2 separate regions of the Homo sapiens genome follow, and region 2 is linked to region 1. Evidence: fine-mapped expression QTL. Tissue or cell type: whole blood. Region 1 holds a variant in brackets; the other region holds the start of a gene. All regions are shown on one strand. Distances are from middle to middle.

Region 1 (5,000 bases):
ATCTTCCAGACATCTTCTGTGGGAAGAAAAGCCCAAAAGGAAGGAAGAAGGGCCCTTTGACCTTTGGGTGGTGAAAGGAAAAAGAAGAAAAAGGAAAATATGTCCTGCAAGATAAGACGGAAGCACAAAATCGAAAGACAAGAGTATGATGAAAATATTTTGTTACGGTTTACTAAAAAGTGCGTCATCACTTGTTTCTTCCCTAGCCATAGATTTCTAGTGTTAAAACAGAAATTAAACATCAATTAGATTTTTACTTTACTGAGTAACTGAGTGTGGTAACATAACTATTCTTGTTATTCCTCAGTGAAATGTTTCTGGATTTTTTTTTTTCTTTTACCTTAACAGGAAAAAGTAATAAACTTTTCTTAGGCTCCTTAGAAACCTTAGAAACAGTCCATTCCCTTTGGTCCACGTCAGCAGTTCAAAGAATGGTCGAGGCTCCTGGAGGTCCTCTGATAACCATTTTGGAGAATCTGCAAGACCCTCTCTTTCCCGACTATGTGTCTGCAAGGCTGGATTTTCTTCATATGCTTCAGCCAAAAAACAACATGTCACCAACAGATGAATGTAGAAACAAATATGAGAACCCAGCTGTCTTCTATTAAAACAGATAATAGAATCACAAAAATATAAAACAGTGCCACTCTTCTCACTTTTTTTGTTTTAGAAAATAGTTATTTTTCATAAAGAGTATGTTGTTTTTATTAACATAATGGGTTTATTACTGTAATCCACTGTGCCAGACCATATGTGTTAATTTTATAATAAAAAAAGCCCTTAAATTGTATCTGCAATATTTCAGAAAAATGTTGCATGATGTCTTGCTTTCTGGTAGGGAAATAGTAACCAGTTGTCACCGTTCCCAAGACTTGGGACAGTGGAGTTCATTTTTATGACAGTTAGTGCTTGAGAATGCAGCTTGTGGCCACTAACATGGGAGACATACTCAAGAAGGCTTTATTCTCATGCTTTATATCTTTCTTTTACTGTTCTAAGGAGAATGAGGAGGCAGTAAATAGTGCTTTCTTGGTCTATTTTATATCGGTTACAGACTAGAAGCAGCCAAAGATGATTATCGAATACGTTGTGAAGAGTTAGAAAAGGAGATCTCTGAACTTCGGCAACAGAATGATGAACTGACCACTTTGGCAGATGAAGCTCAGTCTCTGAAAGATGAGATCGACGTGCTGAGGTAAAAACCTCACCTTCACCGCCCAGCACAGTTTGGCTCTGGTGTTAGAAACTCTAGGGTTTCTGAGGATCTAGCAAACTTAAGAGCCAGGCTACCTGGGCTGGGATCCCGGGTCTACTGCTTATGCAACCTCTGTATGGCTGTTTTCTCATCTGCAAAATGGAAACAATACACATGCCTACCTCAGGTTTATATGAGGAGTTGAGTGAATTTATATTTGTAAACACTTGCAACAGTGTCTGGCAATTAAGCGATACACAAGTGTTTGTAAAATAGAAATTGTGACCATCACTTCTTACTTGTACAGCTCTGGAGCTGTTCTTCCGCCACGCCCGCAAGGCCTCATTTTCTTGCTGGGCCTTGTTATTACCCCTTCAGTTCTCTCATGAGGTGCCTCACTCCCTGTCACCTCATTTTTTCACCCCTCTGCTTGTACAGTCTCCTATCCTCTGTTGATTATCTCAACCATCTACATTTTCCACTTTTGCTCTTTGAATACTGAGAACAGGGGAAATGCATAATTGATAGTTTTGTGCTCCTGCCAATTGGTGGCTTCCTTCTGAGCTGGGTTCTTCCCAATGGCCCGCCCTCCCCTTGCTCATTGTCTCACTCATAGCCATTCTGATTCCTCAGGATTCTACTCCCCGGCTGCCCTCCACACACACCTCCCATGACTTAGTCTCAATAGATGACCTTGTCTCCTATAGCAGCGAAGAAAGAGGCCGTGAACTGCTGAACTCTCCATGTCTTTTGTCTCCAAAACCTCTAAACTTCCCTGGGTTCCCACCCACCCTTTCTTTAGTGAGTGTAGACCTGTTATTCTTCCTCCTGTTCAGGGCTAATTCCTTCTTCAGTGTTCTGGACCTCTACCTTTCTGGCCTACGCGGGGACTGTGTTACATCAATCCTCATTTCTTTTGCCTTTTGAATCTCTCTCCTTCATACACATGCACACGCGCATTTAGGTCTCTTTAATCTTAAAAAGAGAGGGAGTTATTACTCTCTCCTTCCCACTAGAACCAAACTTAGATTACATAAGGTAAAATTGACATTCTCTCCTCAACCCCACTATCTGCCCACACTACCCCACTGAAGCTGCTATTCTGGTGGTCACTGATAATTGCCAAATTATTCGGACACTGTTAAACTTACTTTTCTTTTGTGCCACATGTGACTCTGCTGGCTGCCCTCTCCTGCTTGGTTTCCTTAAATTATTATTCTCCATTAAACATTTAGTTGTAACTTAGGTCATATTTGTTAACCTGTGCAGAAAATTAACCTGGAATCACTTTTGTCTTATTTCATTAGATGTGTGTTTCCTGGCAATCCTTCTTAACACTGAAACAACTTTACAAGTGTGGATGTGTTTCTGATTTTTTTAATTTCCCATCTAATTCTAGACATTCTTCTGATAAAGTATCTAAACTAGAAGGTCAAGTAGAATCTTATAAAAAGAAGCTAGAAGACCTTGGTGATTTAAGGCGGCAGGTTAAACTCTTAGAAGAGAAGAATACCATGTATATGCAGAATACTGTCAGTCTAGAGGAAGAGTTAAGAAAGGCCAACGCAGCGCGAAGTCAACTTGAAACCTACAAGAGACAGGTAAAAGAAACACAGCATCTTGATGATGGTTTCAGGCAAGCTCTCAGTTATGACATGTAGCTTACCAAAATTACTAATTTGTTTTCATGGTATTCTGTTTTTTACCTTTTCTTTATTGTATT[G/T]ATTCATTTAGGAGACTGAGTCTCACTCTGTCACCCAGCCTGGAGTGCAGTGGCATGATCTCAGCTCACTGCAACCTCCACCTCCCAGGTTCAAGCTATTCTTCTGCCCCAGCCTCCTGAGTAGCTGGAACTACAGACGCATGCTGCCACACCTGGCTAATTTTTTGTATTTTGGTAAAGACAGGGTTTCACTGTGTTGCCCAGGCTGGTCTTGTACTCCTGAGCTCAAGTGATCCACCAGCCTCAGCCTTCCAAAGTGCTAGGATTACAAGCGTGAGCCACTGTGAGCCACCATGCCTGGCCTATTGTATTTATTTATATTTATCTAATATTTAAAGAGCTTTAAACTCTCCATAGCAGGTACTTTTATTTTATTTACTTATTTTTATTTAGTTAGTTATTTATTAGGTAATACTTAAGAAATATACAAATGTAAAAGCATAGTTCAGTAAATATTCATGCTTGAATAAAACATGCTCTCCCCCTCCTCGTTACAGGCAGCCTCCATGCTGCGGCTTTCATTCCCATTCGTCTCTCTATACTTTTGCTACATATATATATTTATCCCTAAAAATTTATAGCACTTTGACATGTTCCAGAACTTTATATAAATGATACAGTGAAAGCACTCTTTGTAATTTTTTTTTCTTTTGCTCAGTGAGACTTGTTTATCATGATAGGTATAGCTTTATAACATTCATTTCTGCTGCTCTCTCAGTTAGTCTCTGTACCAAAATTTATCTATTTTCCTGTTAAGAGACCTACAGGATGTTTCAGCTTTTTTTTCTATGTTAAAAGAAATGCCATATAAATAGTATTGTACAGGTCCTCTACTATATATGTGTGAAGGTTTTACAACTTGATGGACTTTCTGTCTAAGAGTATCTTCAATGTAGTTAGATATTAGCAGATTGTTCCTTAAAGTGATTGTGCTACCAACAAGCAGTTTATATTCCTGTTGCTTCACATCATCACCAGCACACAGTATTGGCAAACTAAATTTTGCTGGCCTGGCACAGTGTCTCACGCCTGTAATCTCAACACTTTGGGAGGCTGAGGCAGGAGAGTGGCTTGAGCCCAGGAGTTCCAAACCAACCTGGGAAACATAGCAAGACCCCATCTCTAAAAATAACTTTAAGTTAGCTGGGCATGGTGGCATGAACCTGTGGTCCCAGCTATTTGGGAGGATGAGGTTGAAGAATCGCTTGAGCCTGGGCCTCAGAGGCTACAGTGAGCTATGATTGCACCACTGCATTCCAGCTTTGCTTTTGTGCCGCATGTGACTCTGCTGGCAACATGAGACATGTAAGACCTTGTCTTGAGAAAAGAAAAATAAGTAAAATTTGCCAATTAGATGGGTATAAAATGGTGTCTCCTTTTAATTATACTTCATGTTACCCTGATTACAAATATATTTACTGACCATATTTCTTTTGTAAATTTCCTATTTTTATCTTTTACCCACTTAAAAAATTGAATCATTTCTTTTACTGATTTCTAAAGGTTGTTTATATGTTCTAGATGTTCTTTATCACTTGCACATATTTTTACTTAATCTCCTATGGATCTATGACTTGTCCTTTTACTTTTTTGAGGTTGATAATTTCAGCATAATGAACTTAAAGTACTTTTATGATTTGTACTTTTTATATTTTAAGAAATTATTTCCTATATAAGGTTATAGTCTAATCTTCTCTATTTTCTTTACAAAGATTTAAAGTTTGTTTTGCACATTTAGGTATTTAATCCACTTGGAATTAATTTTTGTGTAGGGTGTGAAGTAGGGATCCCTTTGAGACTCTTTTTGTCTGTGTGGATAACCAGTCAGCCTACCACCATTTATTTAATAGTCCTTTCTTCCACAATGACCTGCAATTCTACCTTGTATATCTAAAATATCCATGTTGTATATGGGTTTATTTCTGGACACTTTCTTCTGTTCCCTTGGTATATTTATCTCTTCCTACACCAATATCACACTCATGTTTTACAAATTTTTAGCAATTTTGATAGGTGGTAGTGCAGACTCTCATACTTTGTCCTTTTTCAAAAGTGTCTGTTCTCAGCCCTTTGCTTTCCCTT
Region 2 (5,000 bases), 72 kb before region 1:
CTCCAACTAACCGGAGTAACCAGACAGCTAAGACAAGTTCAACTCACCTCTCCTCAGGCATTTCCAAAGCTTTCAGGGAAGGAAAAAAAATAAAACACACAGAGAAAATAGAAAAATAGGAAATTCCGGGACTTCCTGGAACAAAGGAGAGAATCTCAGTGTCTTTTTACCCCAAGGCTTACGTAGAAACTCAGCAGCCACATGGCTTCTGCAATTACTCACATCCAAAAAGTTTTTACTAATTTCTTTCATCAAAGGTAACTGGAATTACAAAATGAAACCTCCAGAACAACGTAACATCATGCACAAAAGCACTGTGGATATGCAGCCAAGCTTGAAAAAGGAGACTTTAGGTCCATTGTGTCAAAGCCTTGAAAACCGGGGCCACTGGAGGAAGGGTGCTCAGGACGGCACAACCACAGTCGCTCCAGTAGGGCCAGCATCTTATCTGCCCATCTAAAGACAAGCTGCATGTGAGTCAGGAGTAAGTCAATGTGACATATACTCACTGACTTCATTCACTTGCCTACAAGATTATACGTCACTTAAAAGTGCTAGAGATTCGACAGAAATAACCTGATAAGGAATGTAGGAACTCTAGTTTGACAAATATCCAGAGGCACCAACACAGGAACCAAACACAGGCGAGACACACATGTGTAATTTTTTTTTTCTTTTGAGACAGATTCTCGTTCTGTCGTCAGGATGGAGTGCAGTGGCGCGATCTCGGCTCACTGCAACCTCAGCCTCCCGCGTTCAAGCGATTCTCCTGCCTCAGCCTCCCGAGTAGCTGGGACTACAGGAGCCCGCCACCACGCCCGGCTAATTTTTGTATTTTTAGTAGAGACGGGGTTTCACCATGTTGGCCAGGATCTCTTGACATCGTGATCCGCTCGCCTCGGCCTCCCAAAGTGCTGGGATTACAGGCGCGAGACACCGCGCCTGGCCACGTATGTGTAATTTCTAAAGGTTTCTCTGCCCTTGGTGTAGGGAAGAATGTTTGAAAAAAAGACCATTGAGAATACTTCAGGTAAGTTTTTTTTTTTTTACACTTACAAAATGCTAAATGATCAGGGGTCAACTATCAAGTGGTACTCTGTAAGGCAACCTTAAAAACTCACTGCTGACCCAGGCTCGGTGGCTCACACTTTTGATCCCAGCACTTTTGGGAGGCTAAGGCGGGCGGATCACTTGAGCCCAGGAATTTGAGACCAGCCTGGGCAACATAGCGAGACCCCCTCTCTACAAAAAATAAGAAAATTAGCTGAGCATCGTGGCCTGCACCTGTGGTTCCAGCTACTTGGGAGGCTGAGGTAGGAGGATCACTTGAGCCCAGGAGGCAGAGGTTGCAGTGAACCAAGATTGCGCCACTGCACTCCAGAACGAGACCCTTTCTCAAAAACCACCATCAACAACAACAAAAAACCCCACTCAATGCTGTCTTGGCAGTTTTCAGTGCTCAATGAGAAAACCTACTCTTAATGGAAAAAAAGTGGGGGAAAGGGGTTCCAGGAACTACAAAGCAAAGTGTGTCTTGGGAAGTTAGCTTTGTTGCACTCCAAATAAAAATTTGGCATTGGGTGGTAGTTATGCATACTCTACGCATCGACAATTCTCTAAGGACTCCAAAGTGCATGTCCTGGAAATTCCAACATATTTGCACTACGTTCCAGGTACACTAGAATGTTTATAGCCATGTTCTGAGTGGCCTCAGTCTGAACAAAATGCCCAACCAGAGTAGAATGGATTCACTGTTCTATTCACACTGGAATACTAGGCAACAATTAAAATTACCTATACATACACAGTACACCAATTTAATACTGATTGAAAACCACAAAACAACACACTGTGATCCACCCGCAAAAGTTCAAAAACAGGCAAAGGAAAACGACATCGCATGCACACATAGATGGTAAAGCTGTAAGGAAATGATCACACTAGTCAGGCTAGGAGACAATCAGGCTCCGAAAGGAGCACAGGGCATGGGTGAGAAACTCCTGGGGTGCCGGTAATGCCCTTTTCGTTTTTATCTGGGTGTTTTATTAATTCTTCTTTAAACGTGTATGTCGTATGCACTTTTCTGCGTATGCTATATCTGTTAAAAATTTATCGGCAGCCCAGCAGACAGATTCGTGCCTCTAAAGAGGTGGAAGCTCCAGAACGATCCGCCTCGCCATTAAGCGAAGGCAACTCCGAACGCTGAGAAACGCAGGCCCGGGGTCGGCCGGTGTCCTTACGGATTGGCGAGCGGGCGCACACCCCTCCTGCATTAAGGAGAGTTCTCAGGGTCACGCTCCGAGCGACCCTAGAGGGAGCGGCGGTGTCCTCGCCGCCGCCAAACCCACCTAGAGCCGCTCTCCGCGTCGGCCCCTCCACCGTCGCCGGCGACTCCGGACAGCCGCGGGGCGATTCTGGGGCTTCCAGACGAGGGAGGGGCCCGGGGGGAAGGAGGCGGCGACTCCCGCCGCCCCGCAGAGCCTCGGCGGCCAGAGCTACCCCAAGAAGGCCAGACCCCGCCGTCCGCGGCTCCGCGGGCCCCGATAGGGTGGGCGTGGCCGCCGCGCGCCGGACGTACCTCTCCACCGCGAAGGAACTACCTCGCCAGTTCCCGGCGACAGAGGACAGATTATTTCCAGGACCGCTCCCGCCACCCCTCCCGGGCAACCCACTAGACGTCCCCTTTCTAATTTGGAGTGCGGGTGCGGGCGCACGCGCACTGCCGAGCTTCCGCGAGGGCGCGACCGGACGGCGGAGGAGGACCCGTCGCCGCAGCCTCCAGGGCGGAGCGCGTGCTCGCCTCGACACGCAGCGAACTGGTGGCGGGGGCGCGCCCGGCGGCAGCGGCGGCGGCGGCGGCGGCGGCGGCGGCGCGGCGGCGCGGGTCGGCCGGGGCGCGAGCGTGCGCAGTGGCTCCTCGGCCTCGGCTCCAGCCAGGGCGGCGGCGCTGGGGAGGAGCGGTGTGGGCGGCCGGGGGCGGGGACGCGGGGCGGCGGGCGTGTCCGAAGTCGCGCGCGGCTGGCGCGCGGTCCCGAGTGAAAGGAGAAGGAGGGGCGCTGGGGGTGACGGTGCGGAGCCGCTGCCAGCGCTGGGCGAGAGTCGGCGGCCGGATCCGAGGAGCAGGCGGGCCTGAGGCCGAGTCAGCTGCGCGGGCCCCCGGATCCCCCGACAGAGCGGCGGCGGTGTCTGGCCAGGCGGTAGGCGCTGCCTGGCCGCGGCGGGGAAGATGTTCAGCGTAGAGTCGCTGGAGCGGGCGGAGCTGTGCGAGAGCCTCCTCACTTGGGTACGTGGGGGCCGCGGGCCGGCGGGAAGACCCCCTCCCCCCGCCACCTACCGGGACCCTCCACGCGCGGCCCGTGGGGCGAGCGCTGCGGGCGACGGTGCCGTCACATCCGGGGCCTGGGGCGGGCGGGGCGAGGAGGCTCGGCCCAGGGTCCGAGAGAGACTTGCCGGGCCTGAGGCGTCGCTGTTCCGGGCGGACCCCGGCCGGGGCTGGGCTGGGAACGCGGCGGGCGACTCTGGGATCCGTGCGGCTGCTCGCAGCTGGGGCTGCGCTGCGCTCTGGGGGTGGCCGAGCCTGACTGCCCCGCGTCCAGGACCCGCCGCCGCTCCTCGCCTTTGTTGCCGCGTTCGCGGAGGACGGGCCCGGCTCCGGCCCGGGAACTGAAAGGACCTGTGAGGGAGCGTGGGGAGAATGCGGGAGGCGCCCGGGGACCCCGTTTCGGATGCAAGGCACCGCTGGCGGTGGGAGTGCGCGAGGGGCGGACGCCTGTCAGAGGCGTCGGGCAGACGTTTAAAGGAGTCTGGAGGTGTCTGGGCGTCAACAATGGAACTCGAAGGCCTTGGGGGACAGAGTCGTGGGATTCTGATTTTGAATTCTTAAACGGTTTTAGATTCCTCATACTTTGAAGTAAATACATGTTCACCTCTCACGTCAGCTGCCGCGCCTTCCTGAAGCCGGGTCTTCAGGACGCGGCAGGGGAACCGACGCCCGGGTTCCAGTCGTTCTCGCCGCGGCGCGGCCGGGGAGGGGGAGGGATGCGCAGAGCCCGGGCGGACCCCGCGCTGCCTTCGGGAGCCTCCGTTTCACTCATTGCTGAGAATGTTAATTAAATGTTTACGGATGTGTTTATGAAGGCTACTACAGCATTTGTATTACTTTTAAAGGTAAAACACGAATGTGAGAGAAATTCTCTTTAGCGGTGTCTTGGGTTACGAGTCAGGATCCCTGGAGTGTAGACGTCACGATCCTGTGCAAGGCACTTTGCTGGAAAGGCTGGAGAAGTATTGCCTTACGTTGGTTGTTAAAAAAATTAATAAAAATAGTCTGAGGTTTTTATAGTTTGGCTACGTCACGAATCAATTTCTGTCCTCTGAAACAGACTTGGTAGAGCTTGAGTAGCCAGTTGCATATCAGACCATTTAGGGGATTTCAGATCGTTAGCAGTAGTATGTAGTTAGCGTGCAGCTTACCCTTCTGATGAGTTCTCCCTCCAGGCAAGGAGATGGCTTTCACTGCTGTATTTCAGAAAAGAGGAAGACTGGTAAGTTGTATAATGTGGCTGAGGTTTCTGACTAGGCAGGGGAGAGAGAGAGAGGAAAGAATTACTAAATTCTTTGATGTTGTGGAAGGAATAGATTTGGCAGAATCTGTACATCTGTAAACAGAATGCTGAGGAACTTAAGATTTAAGTTTTTGAGACTGTGCAAGTAGTGCTTCCCTTTATGCTAGAAGAAGCAGCCAGAAGGCAAAGATGAAGCTAATTGAATCTAAGTAGGGCTACATTGTTTAAAATCTAGGGAGAAAGAAGACATGGAAATAAAGAGGTGTACAGAGGCTCCTTAACTTGCGATGGGGTTACATCCCGGTAAACCCATCATAAGTTGAAAATACCGTAAGTTGAAAATGCATTTCATACGCCTAACCGTCCAAACGGTAGCTTAGCTTGGTCTACCTTAAACGTGCTCAGAACACTTACCTTAGCCTACAATTGGGCAAA

The links. PIP is the estimated chance that this variant, and not a neighbour inherited with it, causes the effect.
Region 2: RNF170 starts here. The variant in region 1 is fine-mapped to the expression of RNF170 in whole blood (TOPMed, PIP above 0.99).

The regions. Positions count from the first base shown.
Region 1 is chr8:42,965,419-42,970,418 of GRCh38, forward strand. HOOK3 (hook microtubule tethering protein 3) reads left to right here. Exons shown (of 22, transcript NM_032410.4): 10 at 1,055-1,195; 11 at 2,595-2,796. Among named protein-coding and RNA genes, the nearest start is that of HOOK3, 71 kb to the left of the region's middle. The variant G/T (reference allele first, on the strand shown) is at 2,919.
Region 2 is chr8:42,893,906-42,898,905 of GRCh38, forward strand. It overlaps RNF170 (ring finger protein 170), which reads right to left and starts at 2,700. Exons shown (of 7, transcript NM_030954.4): 1 at 2,579-2,700. It overlaps HOOK3 (hook microtubule tethering protein 3), which reads left to right and starts at 3,073. Exons shown (of 22, transcript NM_032410.4): 1 at 3,073-3,283. The coding sequence starts at 3,227. It overlaps MIR4469 (microRNA 4469), which reads right to left and starts at 2,370; the gene lies at 2,292-2,370. RefSeq lists an enhancer at 1,817-2,378 and silencers at 2,285-2,496, 2,292-2,651, 2,832-3,621, 3,632-3,691.